Linked DNA regions of Homo sapiens: regions 1 and 3 are each reported to be linked to region 2. Evidence: microRNA targets listed by miRTarBase, many of them from high-throughput screens and not tested one by one. Region 2 holds a microRNA gene; each other region holds the end of a gene's coding sequence.

Region 1 (4,229 bases), not on the chromosome of region 2:
AAATTATTCAGAAGTTAGTTGATGGGTCTTGAGGACATAATTTTTTTAGACCTACAGAAGGAACACGACCTGGAGCTAGAACTGGGGAAAAGAGGAAATTTAAGACAAATGGATGGCATAAATGTGGCAGATGCTTTAATGCTTATTTGTCTTTTGCTTTTCCTATTCCACCCCCGCCGCCGCCTGGATTTCCTGAGAAGCTGAAATGCAAACGGAGCCCAATTTTCCCACTCTCTCAAACTTATTTTGAGATTATTCTTTAAAAGAATCCGAGACACACATTTTATCATATTCACCCCAAAACTGGTGGAGGAATCCGCTTAGAGTGAACTTCTCTTCAGAACTAGAAAACTTTGAAAGGCCAAACTATCACTCATTGACACCCACTTCAATGATAGTTTGGCCTCTTCAGGAGGTCCCTTTTTGTTTTTTTTTCATGGATTGACAGTTAAAGGCGTCTTAGAATAGTCTTACTACTCCTTCAAGCCATATATAGATTCGCTTACCAGAAAGCAAAGCATTTTTTTTTGTTTTGCACAGTTTCCTACTACATAAAATAGGAAATTCATTTTCATGATGTTTTATTAACATAATACTCTTATTTTTATGTGGTAAAGGTTTTATTTAAAGCAAATTCTTAAATTCTTAATACCTACATTGATCATTATTATATAATACACATGTGTTTGCCTGCAACATTTCTGCTTGAGGCAGACTTTAAAAAAAACCCTTTGTAAATCTTTTCATTTGTTCTGTCCTGTTTTTCCAACAATGAAATCCAGTCATACTTTTCTATAAAATAACGGTTTTTTTACAAATGCATTTTATTTAAAACTGATGATGTTTCAAGTCAATAACAGCAAAAACAAATCAACTTTTTATGGAAGAGTTCTATGTTTAAAAATACCTCTAGTGCTTTTTTTTTTTAACATTAACAACTGTTTAAAATCGCAGCTTTTAAAATGTACTATTCTTTTTGAACATCAAGTGTTTTCCTTCACAGATTTGCCGGTGAAATTAAAAAGATTTGGCTAAAATAAGATGACTTCAGATGATATAATCTCAACTCTTAAGAAACTTTGTACATTTGGCATCTGATCTAGTCCCAAGTCACCAAGAAATAGAGGCTCTCTAGTCACTGTGGAGCAGTAGGTGGCACACTAAATGTTTTAAAATGTATTACCCTCCAAAGAAAAGCCATTCAGTTACTAGGTGTTTTTAGGGTAGAATATCACATCTAAACCTCCAAATTCCTCTGTCCCTGACCCTAAATTTAAATGTTTTTTGGGTGCCTGGTTATTTATTGGTTTTCACCACTCTGGATCAAGTGCTGTGGTTTAAGAGTTTCTGCAGTTAAAAAATAATAACTTTTATAAACACAGGCAACTAATATAGAATTCATTTTATTTAGAGCACCACTTTTCATGAGTTATCTGAAAGTGAATTCTGATTCAGCAAAAAAATACATCATTCTCAATCTCTCCCCTTTTTGTCCCCCTTCAACACCCTACCCTCCCCCCATTTCTTTGTGTTTTCTTTTTGTTTGGTTGTTTGTTGAAAGGTTCTACCAGGACCTGGCCCAGTATAAACACAAAAACGCACCCAAATCATAAAACTGCTCTTCTTTCAGTTATGTTTTATTTGTAAGTGTACTGGGACACATCCCCCTGTTGTATTTTGGCGCATAGAATTGGTTCTGATAGAAGTAAGGGAGGAGAAAGGTAAAAGAGAAAAAACATAACCAAGGAGAAAGCTCAGCAGACATACATGGACAGGTAGATCAATCCGTGAGACATTTCAGGATGAACACTGGCAGTCTGTTACCACTGTGTGAATGTGTGCATTAAATAAAATATTTACAATAATCTTTTTTCCTTTTTCTTTGAATACAAGAATATGACAAAAATGTTTTCAGTGGAAACAGGCAGTAGACTGTGAAATCGCACTAGCCACAAAACGGTCTACCAGAAAGCTAGCCCAGTTTAGTGCTCAGTTTCAAATGCATAGAATGTTTGCCCTGCAAACAATGATATACAACATAATTAAATAAATAATGCCTAACCAGAGTGAGACCTAATTGTGTTTCTTTCCACACCTTTCAGATCATGCATGATTTCAGTCTTGTTAATCGGCAGGTTTTTTTTCTTTTCTCATTTGTTCTGTTTTCAATGTTTTAGTTATGATTAAAGGATGGTAACAAACCATCTCTACGAGAGATCCAAAGAGTATCTTGTACACAAAGCAGGCATTTTACCTAACCACCTTCAACTATCTTAATTTTTTAAAATCCACCAGCAGCTTGTAAGGTACCTGATTATTACTATGAAATACTATACATGATTTTCTATTTGGGAGACTGGTAGTGCAAATTAAAGTTCTTGCTACCCAACATTTATCCCCTGTAATAAATGACTCTTGAATAATAAGAACAAGTAAAAGGAAACACAGTTGTTCTGTTTTCGCCCAACATGCAGACCTCTTTGAAACAAATGGGGGTGGGGGCACTTTAAATCTGTCTTCCTCTTTTCTGGGATTTAGGTGATTTTCTCACAGCCAAGTCCTACCGCAAAAGAAAGCAGGAACTTCTCAACATTTCTATAATTTCATGTCCTCCAAGAGAGGAAGAAACGGGACCTAGAAGAGCAAGATGAGTCTCGTTCAGTGGAGAAAACAGGAGAGAGTATCTCTCCTAATAACTTTCACCCCATTAGTCTATTTGAATCAACAGGAAAAATCAGTAGTTTAAACCTCTCTCTAAAAAAAAGATAAAACTGAAAGGGCAAGTTAAAGTTCTATGAGTGGGAAAAGCTTATTTTGAAATTGTCTAAAACTAGATCTTCGACATAAGAGGAAAAAAAACTGTTGTTAAAATTGTTTCATTTTCCTAGAATAAGATATCTCGAAGCTCCGGAATTCTGCTTTTTAGTAGCTCAAAGACTATGCCCTTCTCTCCAAAGACCCCCACCCCAACAGGACCAGGCCACCAGAGTATAGGCAGGGCCACGGGAAAACTTGGATTCCACCTAAGCAAGCAGCCAGCCTCCCCCTGACCCTCTCTTTTCAGCTGTGCTCCCACTCACTTCCCGGGATTGGAGAGCAGCCATAGGCCTCTCATTGGAACGGAGGAAATAAAGAGGATATGGATGGGGTGGAGGTGAGAGAGGGAAAAATTAAACACGCAGACAGAACAACTAGCTTTGATACCCAGAACTTCAACTTCTCGCTCGTTTGGTTTTCGTTTTTCGACTCAGTTCGTGCGTGTAGGGTTGGGGAGGTGGTAATAATGGTGGTGCTCTTTTTTCTCTTCTATGGGGGAAAATGAAGTTGCAGATTATGGCTCCCCGGAGTTAAAATTTCTAAAGCATTTTCCTTTGCTTTTGTTCTGTTTTGTTTTAGTTTGTCTTTATTTGTCTAGTTTTTGGTGGTTGGTAGGTTTGTTTTTGTACATAGTTCCTTGGTCCCCAGGATATTTAGGTAAGTGTCTCTGGTCAGAAACAGTCCATTTTCCTACCCTTCCCGCGTCTCCCCCCACCCAAACCCCAGAACCATCCTGCTCCTTAAAACCCCTGCTCGGGTCTCCGCTTTCCTTCCCCCCACTCCCCACTCCCCCGAATGCTCCCCCCCTTCTCCCCTACCCTATACTCCAATCCCCACACCCAGCACCCCAGTCCTCAAGGCTAGGGGACAGCAAAGGCAGGAAAATCAGAGAATGGGTGGAGGAAAGAGAGCGAGAAGGGACTCCCCAAATGCAGGCAGGATAACGGACACTCCAAATCCGAGGGGAGGCAAGCAGAGGAAAGCCCCCCAAAAATGCCTCCTCAGCTCCCCATTCTGTCCCGCCCGACACCTCCCAGCCCCCTCAGTAAGTGGCAGAGAATTTCATCCGCTTCTGCTTCTGTCTCTGGTTGCAAAACCACACCCGCACCACGTTCTTTTTGAGGTCCAGTTTCTCGGCGATGGCGGCGATCTTCTCGGACGAGGGCCGGGGCTGCACGGCGAAGTAGGCCTCGAGGGAGCGCTTCTCGGGCGCGGCGATGGAAGTCCGCTTGCGCTTCTTCTCGCCGCCGTTGAAGAGCTCAGGCTTGTTCATTTTCTCGCGCTGGGCGCCCTCGGCCTCCTCGAGCCACGCCTGCAGGATGGGCTTGAGCGCGATCATGTTGTTGTGCGAGAGCGTGAGCGACTCGAACCTGCAGATGGTGCTCTGGCTGAGTGAGCCCACGCCCGGGATC
Region 2 (4,242 bases):
GTGACTGGCAAACTCTCAGAACGCCTTCTTCATTTCATGGTCTTCACAGACTCAGAGAGACGTCAGTGTAGAAGAAGGCACCAGTGATGACCCAGCCTCTACTCCCCACCCCACACCCCCAGTCCAATGCTCTGATTTCTGTATGGACATGCCAGCAGTTCTGGGGACTGTGATTCCATCTCCTTGGTGGCCATTAAGCACATCACATTCTCTGATTACAGTGACTGGATAAGGGTGGCAGGCCTGTAATGTAAGCCAGTCGAATCAGAGTGGACTGCAGACTCCCTGGGAACACTGGAGCAGAGGTGCTCTCTTCCTCTGGAGGTCATGGTGAGTGGGTGTGAAGCCAGGTGCTGCAGCAGTGTTCTTGACACTGCAAGAAAAGCCGCGATGAGGATGAGCCTGACACATCAAGGAGGTGAGAGCTGGGAAATTAGAAGAAGTAGAGTTGGTGCCCTGGTGATGTCATGAATCTCTGGATCAAACCATGCCTGTAGCTCAAACCATATCTGAAAAGCTGATTTATGAGACAACACATTCTCCTTGTTTAGGGCAGTTTGAACACTTTTAGAAATTACTTCTAATTCAAAGCATCCTAATGGATACAGTTTTTAAAAATCATTTTTGCCCAACTGGAGAAAAGCCCAGTCTTAGGATGCTTCAAATTATGAAAACCCTGACTTTTCCAGTTAGGCACTAAAGGCACAGAGACAGGAAGTCACCCGCGCTTACCCACTCAATAGCCAAGAGGGTTCTGAAGAGGAAATACTGCAAGACTCCCACCAAGAGGCCCAGAGACCATGGTGTTAGCCAACAATTTGCTGTGTTACTTCAAGCAATTCACTTGCCCTCTCTGGGCCTCTGTGTTCTCCTCTGAAAACAAGAAGGGCATGCTGGAGTTGGGATGGGGGCCCTTTCCCTTTTGGTTCTTCCTGCAGTGATGCTAAAGCCTCTCCAAGAAGTTCTCTCTGGCCAGGAAGATACTCGAAGGAACCACTGAAACATGCTGTCTCAGGCTCTCTGGAGCACGGAACACTAGGCCATCGATGTTGCAGCTGCACGGGACACAGTCGGATGAGTTCGTGGGAAACAGGGAAGAGGGCGATAGAGCCTGGGAAGGACAGCAACTTGCAGGGAAGGGATGACTATAGTCTACCTGGTGTAGAGGAGCTAAGACACCATCCCCCCTAGAAAGGATTTCTCTTGAGATACGCCAGGCAACAAGGGGATATGAACACAACCACTGCGCTGGCACACTTTGATTCTTAGTCTCAAAATGCTTATCCACAGGATGTAAAGCTATGGCTTGCCGGGAGGGAGGATCTCGTGGTAGCTGTGAGTGTCAGTGTGGGCTCTGGAGCTAAACTGCCTTGGTTTGAATCCCAGCCCATCGCTCACTGCCTGTGTAACCTGGGGCAACAGGCTTGACACTGCCCCTCAGTTGTCTAGTCTGTAAACTGCGGACGGTAAGCAGACCTAACTCCTAGGACCGTCCCGAAGAATGAATAAGACAATACATAGAAACCACTCAGACCAGATGCTGGCACATTAATAAACCCCATTTCTCATCGTTATGGATGTGATAATTTGGTCTGTTCCATCTCCCTTTCCTTTAGGGAACCTCCTTTCTCCCAGTCTGCACCAATTCAACCCAAGCCTCTGAATCTAAAAGGGGAGCTGACGCCTCCCATGCTACGGAGACAGGCACGTGACTCAGTCACAGCCAATCAAAAGGCCTCTGTCTCCTGGCCACAGTGCTACGGTCACGGATGGACACGTCACTTAGTCACAGCCAATCAGAGGCCTCTCTCTCTGGCCATAATGACAGGTTCAAGGGTGGCCATGCCTCAGTTCTAGCCAATCAGGTCAGGGCCTGTGATCCGTGGGGGCCCCGGAGTCCTCCCAGGGCTTTTGCCAGAACTTCCAGGAAAGACACTGTCTGTTCCCTGGGATGCCAGCAGGGTTCTTGGGGATGACTGGTCAGCCGAGGGCTGCTGAGACCGCCTTCCCCCCACGCAGCGAGAGCCCACGGAGGCGCAGCCCGCACACAAGCGGAGATGAGCGGAGAGAGGAGCCCTGAAGGCAGCCCGCCCTCCCGGGCATTTATTCACCACACGGGGACACGGCCTCAGCACTCCGCTGTCTGCCTCCTGGAACGGAAAGAGCCGCGGCCAGGCCCCCTTCTTTCATGGGTAACCTACCTGAGGGCAAGGTTTTTTTGGGAGGAATTCGCCCGGTCTAAGTAGCGTATGTTGAAGAAGGCACTCTAAAACGTTTCATTCTCTCCCGAGTGAGTATTTGGATCAGCATGGATGAGCAACCTGCCAAGTCCCCTCTTGGCCCACTCTCAAATGGTTTTGTGGCTCCAACTAGCCCTGGACTGCAGCCTAAACTCTGCCCTTCAGCCGTGGGCGCAGTCTCCACCGCTCCCAGCACAGATGGTTCACAAATAGCCACTCCAACAAGCATTTAGCCTCAGTGTGTGCCAGGTTCTGACGGGGAGGGGTACCTAGGGATGTGGTCCCAGCCCGCAGGGAGCTTGGACTCAGATTGGAGAGGTCAGCAGGAGTGTGTGTGGGTGAACAGACAAGATCTCAAATGACAGTAATAAAATGTCAAGCTAGATGAGTGTGATCATCAGCCACAGTAGGGAACCTGGTCTCAGCGGCCTGTGACAGGTCTGCAGCCTGCACCTGTTAGCACAATGCCCTGCAGATACAGCCTGCATTCCCGTTGCCTCCCACTCAACACAATCCCCCAAGGGGAGGAAAACAAATCTTTGCATCCTTTCCCAATCAGTTTTTCCCAGCACAAACACAGAACCAAAGTAAATTACCTTGTGTCAAATTCCATTTTTATTCAATTATGGGAGAGAGCACCATGCTGCTTATGTGATTTAAGCAAGGTACCCCTCTACCCCCACCTTTTCCAAAAGCAGTTTTGAGATTTCATGTGCCATATTGTGATCCCTTAAGGGTTCATTTGACAGATTTTTTTTTCTCTCCATATGGCATTTGCTGTCAGTATGGAAACAAGGCCGTTATAAACTCCCAGCACAGTAAACACCATGCGATTCCAACACAAGCTGTCAGCACCTCAGTTCCGAGCCTCTCCCAGCTGTAGAGAGGATCCCAGGCAAAAAAACTACTCGTTGGAAGCCTAGAGAGAAATAAAAGGACCAGTAATGATCTTTTTAGATTTCTTTCTTCACCTCAAATCAAGATCAATGGGTTCATTTTCTGAGCAAGCACACACACAAAAACAAAATCATCCCTAGTGCAACATTTACAGTTCCTATAGAAATGGATAAGGAGGCCACAGAAGGAAGAATACGAATTTGGGAATGATCAAGGTGACAGGAGGAGGCGCAAATCAAAGTTCTTGATGTATCAAGAGCAAACCCGAGGTATAGGTTGCTTCTGGAAAGTCAATGACATTGAAGTTGGAAGCATGAGAAGTTCTACGATACATGCTTGGAGTGGACCCTTTCGGATCTGTTTCAACAGAAGCTGGCAATGTTGTTGAAATCCAGCTTGGAAGGGGGCCTGCCCACAATCTTTCTCCAAAGTGTGGTCTGTTGGGGTTGGTGAGGAGAAACACCTAGGACAAGGGCAGAAGACTTTTCTCTCTGTCTCCAAATCTATCTTTAGGGGTGGGAGAACACTGGGATGCTGTACACACAGGCACACACACACTGTCCACACACACGCACGCACATACACACACGCACGCGCATGCGCACTTGCTCTTCTAGAACATGGAACTCCTGCTTTCCATGTGCCTCATTGATCTTTTCCTCCAAGCCAGAAAGAGGCTGCTTTATGTAAGACATTTGGGAGTAGTGGCCAGGCACGGTGGCTTACGCCTGTAATCCCATCACTTTGAGAGGCCGAGGCGGGTGGATCACCTGAGGTCAGGAGTTCAAGACCAGCCTGGCTAACATAGTGAAACCCTGTCTCTACTAAAAATACAAAATAATTAGCCAGGCGTGGTGGCAGGCACCTGTAATCCCAGCTACTTGGGAGGCTGAGGCAGAAGAATGGCTTGAACCTGGGAGGTGGAGGTTGCAGTGAGCCAAGATCGTGCCATTGTACTCCAGCCTGGGCAACAAGAGTGAAACTGTGTCTCAAAAAAAAAAAAAAAAAAAAGGCATTAGGGAGTAGGGTATGGGGAGCTCCTCGGCCCCTAAGTATCCACAAATCATCCAGCCATTCTAACTTTGCTATTTTGGGTCCTTCATTC
Region 3 (4,205 bases), not on the chromosome of region 2:
ACATACCCATCTGATGACACACTGTTGGCTTGGTGGCAGGAATTGCAGGGGTGCTAATAACACTACTATAACAACAAAAACAGCAAGACCTGTAATAATAGCAGCCACCCACTTCCTGAGAGCGTGTTTTATGTATCCCACTTAATCCTCACTCTAAGCCTGAAAGGACTATTACTGCCCCATTTTAAAGATGAAGGACCTGAGGCCCAGAGAGGTTAGTTTGTCCATACCTACGTGGCAGGCTGGGATTCAGACCTATATCCATATGCATGATTCCACTGGCATATTGACTCAAAAATTGTAACTCCAAAGCAGTTTTAAAAAGCACATTTGCTTGCTTTTCCAGAGCTTTAAAAAAAAATGCTTCATTGTGCACTTTCTTATAGACATATTTTAAAACATAATACATGTTTTAAAAACATGCATTTTTAAATGCCTTAGTCTTGTGTTGCTAATTATTGAAGGTGAGTGATAGCTATAGGAGGGTCAATGATGATTCTACTTTTGTATGTTTTGAATTTTCCATAATAAAGTTATCTCTTTTTTTTTTTTAATTGGCTCTTTGGAAAATTGGATGAGGTAAGACAACAACAATGGTGAAGTGAGATTGCAACTCTCCATGGATGTCACTGAGTGGCAATGTCCCTAATTGCCTTCTATTAATAAGCAGCTGCAATGCAGTCCCTTGTTTGAGAGTGCTGCTGCAGCCTTGCCACACACCAGCAGCATGCCCAGGGCAGAGCATCACTCATTTTCTTTCTTTTTTTCTCTAAGACAGTCTTGCTCTGTCGCCCAGGCCGGAGTGCAGTGGCACGATCTCGGCTCACGGCAACTTCCGCCTCCCAGGTTCAAGCAATTCTCCTGCCTCAGCCTCCTGCGTAGCTGGGATTACAGGTGCCCGCCACCACACCTGGCTAATTTTATGTATTTTTAATAGAAACAGGTTTCCACCATGTTGGCCAGGTTGGTCTCGAACTCCTGACCTTGTGATCTCCCACCTCAGCCTCCCAAAGTGCTGGCATTACAGCTATGAGCCACTGTGGCCGACCAAGCGTCAGTCATTTTACCAGGGAAGGACTGGCTGTTCAGAGTAACTCTCAGACACAGAATTTTCCCAGCCTCCACCCCATTCACTAAGCATGTCTTGTTGGGTGTGGTAGATTTCACAGGAGATGGCAGAAGTGCTGCTATGAGAGGCTGGTGCGAGTGATCCCACCTTGCCTGCTCACCTCATTGACAGCCAGCTAGTATGTTTTTAGACAGAAAGATTGGGTCAGTCAGGACAATTCCTCCAAACTTTCCAGAAAAAAAACAATATCTAGGCAGACATTTTATGATTTCTTACCAATCCCTCTATTCATTATCAATGACTTTGATTATTTCACTTCCTCTCATTTTTTCTCTGGCTATTTTACCCACTGAGACATTATTTTCTTGCTAAAAAGAAGAAATAACTGGCTATGGGAAAAAAAAAAGTGGGTGAACAGGTCATACTAACCTCCTTTCCTGCTTTCACCTGTCACTCCCACAAGACAAACAGCCAGCCATATACTGTACTCCTCCCTTTCCTAAAGGAAGGGCTGGATGGGGACGGGGGTCGTGGTGGGGGGGGGGGGGGCACTGACAGAGAAAGGTATCGTTTCACATAATCAAGTTTTTCTTATAACTATGAGAGGGGCCTTCCTAGAAACGGCTTGGCATGTTCTCAAGGCAGAACTGTCTGGCTGGTGCTGTTTCCACTGTGAAGCTTGAGTTTGGTTCCAGCACCCTGAAGTTCAAGAGCACTGCAGTGTCACCAGCGTAAAACATTCAGATGAAAGCGACATTTCCCTCTCAAAGGAAGCGGGGAAACAAACAAAATCCCCCAAACTGAAAACAAAAAGCAAACTAAGTGAACATGAACTAAAGGAGATAGGCCAAAGGAAATAAACTAGGTGCATGACATTTCCTAGGAAAATTTAAGCACACACACACCATTCTGTCCACCTCCAGTCCAGAAAAGCCATGATGAACTGAGTAGTAAAGGATGGGCTTTATATAAAAACAAACAAAACACGCCATGCAAGTTCTACTTGTTCTTCCACGTCAAGACAATTCTCATTAAATAAAACCAATTTGCTTATATATAATCAGCCCATGAGATAGTGGCATTATCTTTATAAGCTTAAAACAAAATAGAGGATGTCAAAAATCTTAAAACAGAGAAAAGAAAATTGGTATGCACAGATTAGGGAACAAGGTATAAAACTGACCAGCCGAAACTCACTTATGTGTTATGTACTTTCAGCTCCATAAATAGTTTTTAAAATACACACATATTTACATACACACAGACTAAAAAGCTAAGTGAACCCAATAAGTAAATGTATAGAAGTAAAAAAAAGTATTGTATTTGGTTGGTTGAAGACGGGTTTATAAGGAGTCCAATTGGCCAGATAGCCACAACCCAAAATTACTAGCCAGAGTCAAAGGCAATTCTGGGCTCTGCCCCATGTGAATGCAAGTCCCACAGGAGGTCACTCACAACTGACGGGTAATTTAGATATTTAACAGACCAGAGCACACTGTCAAAGAATTTGGCTACCTGCTATCACTTGAACATACAAAGTAATAATTTTAAAAAGCTGTATGGCCAATGTCCAGGATGAATTTATTTCTTGGAGAAAAAAATATATATGATTTTCCTAGACACCACACAGTGACTGGCACTTTTCATTTCTCTTTTATCACAGCATACAAAAAAGAAATCAACAGAAACACACCAAAACTTTTCCCAATATCCCTTAAATTAGCAGATTTAAAATTAAATCTTGAAGCAGTATTTTGTGATACTTTGATTCAAACTCTATTTACAAATTAAATTGCACTTATAAAGATAGCAACATTTCTATTTTGATAGTAGGTTATTTTGCTTTATTGTGGTTGTATATCTGGATATAAAACTTTTAAAGCTTTCTTGAATAAAAATCATTATTTTGCAGTCCATAATTTACTTGCCCACTGAATGTCTGAACCAGTGTTCTCTTTTTGTGTTTTTCTGCTCTATTTTATTTTACAAATGGCACATACCATCAGAGTAGGCACAGTCTGACACTGCACTCATTATGAGAGACTTATTCAGAAAAAAAGTGTAAGGAATAAAATATTAGCAGTCAAATCCTTTGGTTCATCTTTTCAAAAAAAATCAACTGATATAATTACAAATCATTGATAATTCATCTTTTTGGTTAAAAACAAATCCACCAGGTAGATTACTGATTAAAATGCAACACTGCTTTAAAACACCACATTCCTATTCTCATCACACTGTTCAAAGATGCCATTGTTTACAACTGATTGGACATGACACAGGATACAGTAAGGCACAAGTGGATGGTACAAATAAAAACAAATACTTTAGGACTTGTTTTTCTGCACAAATACTAAAATATGTACCGTTTTCAAGATAAAATAACAAAAAAGAAATACATATTTTTGTTATGAAATACCTATACAAAATTTTAAAATTTACACCATCTGAGCTGCCAAAAAAGGTTTAAAAAGTATCCATTTTTCCCCATACATAAAACTATCTCTCATCAGTAGGTCCAAGGGAACTTGGGGGATTCAAAATATCCCAGCACTTTACGGAAGGGAGGAGGATAAAAATTCCCCTTCCTGCTTTCCTTTACCCCAACATAAGACAAAAACAAAGGTCGTATGTTTACAGTAGTGTATTCTACTTATTACAAACAACTGAAATTAAAAAAAAAAAAAATCACACCGGGAGACCACTGGTGCGCTGACTGGTTGCGGGATGAGTAAGGCACTTCCTGGGAGACAGCAGCTTCCCCACACTCCACGGGAAGATGGCGCGCGGGGGCTGGTTAGGACAAGGAGCACGTGAGGCTCCCGGGAAGCAGACAGGAACGTCTCGACAGCAGAGGAAGACACAGGAGGTAAAACTTGGAGGTGAAACTCTACACAGAAGTGGTCACTCGGTCAATGGCATGATTGACCTCGTTTTTGTTTGAGTCCAGTCCTTTAGCAGCATTCATGTCATTCCGTAAATTCTCCACTGTCTTTTTCATGTGCTTTAACTCCCCTGGGTGTGGAGTGGCTCGCCTTAGAAGTGTTCTCTAAAAACAAACAGTGGAGTGAGTGTTTTGGTTTTATTCCACTACTTTTTTCAAAACATGCAGCTTCAAGGCATTAGCATTCCAATA

The links. Region 2 holds the annotated microRNA hsa-miR-4681 (AACGGGAAUGCAGGCUGUAUCU, at 2,714-2,735, opposite strand). A microRNA usually pairs through its seed, bases 2 to 8, with sites in the 3' UTR of a target mRNA and lowers its output. Matches are read on the target gene's strand: a 7mer-m8 pairs with bases 2 to 8, a 7mer-A1 pairs with bases 2 to 7 and ends in A, and an 8mer does both.
Region 1: the mRNA of POU4F1 is a reported target of hsa-miR-4681. Seed matches in the 3' UTR shown: 7mer-m8 at 3,003-3,009.
Region 3: miRTarBase lists LRRC1 as a target of hsa-miR-4681. Seed matches in the 3' UTR shown: 7mer-m8 at 3,841-3,847.

What each region holds. Positions count from the first base shown.
Region 1 is chr13:78,597,556-78,601,784 of GRCh38, forward strand. POU4F1 (POU class 4 homeobox 1) reads right to left here. Exons shown (of 2, transcript NM_006237.4): 2 at 807-4,229. The coding sequence ends at 3,860. All of the region lies in intron 3 of OBI1-AS1 (OBI1 antisense RNA 1), which reads left to right. It overlaps LOC780529 (a long non-coding RNA gene), which reads left to right. Exons shown (of 1, transcript NR_158457.1): 1 at 1-2,064. Among named protein-coding and RNA genes, the nearest start is that of POU4F1, 3.9 kb to the right of the region's middle.
Region 2 is chr10:119,376,468-119,380,709 of GRCh38, reverse strand. MIR4681 (microRNA 4681) reads right to left here and starts at 2,738; the gene lies at 2,667-2,738. The region is part of intron 2 of GRK5 (G protein-coupled receptor kinase 5); the gene reads right to left.
Region 3 is chr6:53,922,548-53,926,752 of GRCh38, reverse strand. It overlaps LRRC1 (leucine rich repeat containing 1), which reads right to left. Exons shown (of 14, transcript NM_018214.5): 14 at 2,628-4,118. The coding sequence ends at 3,960. Among named protein-coding and RNA genes, the nearest start is that of MLIP-IT1, 74 kb to the left of the region's middle.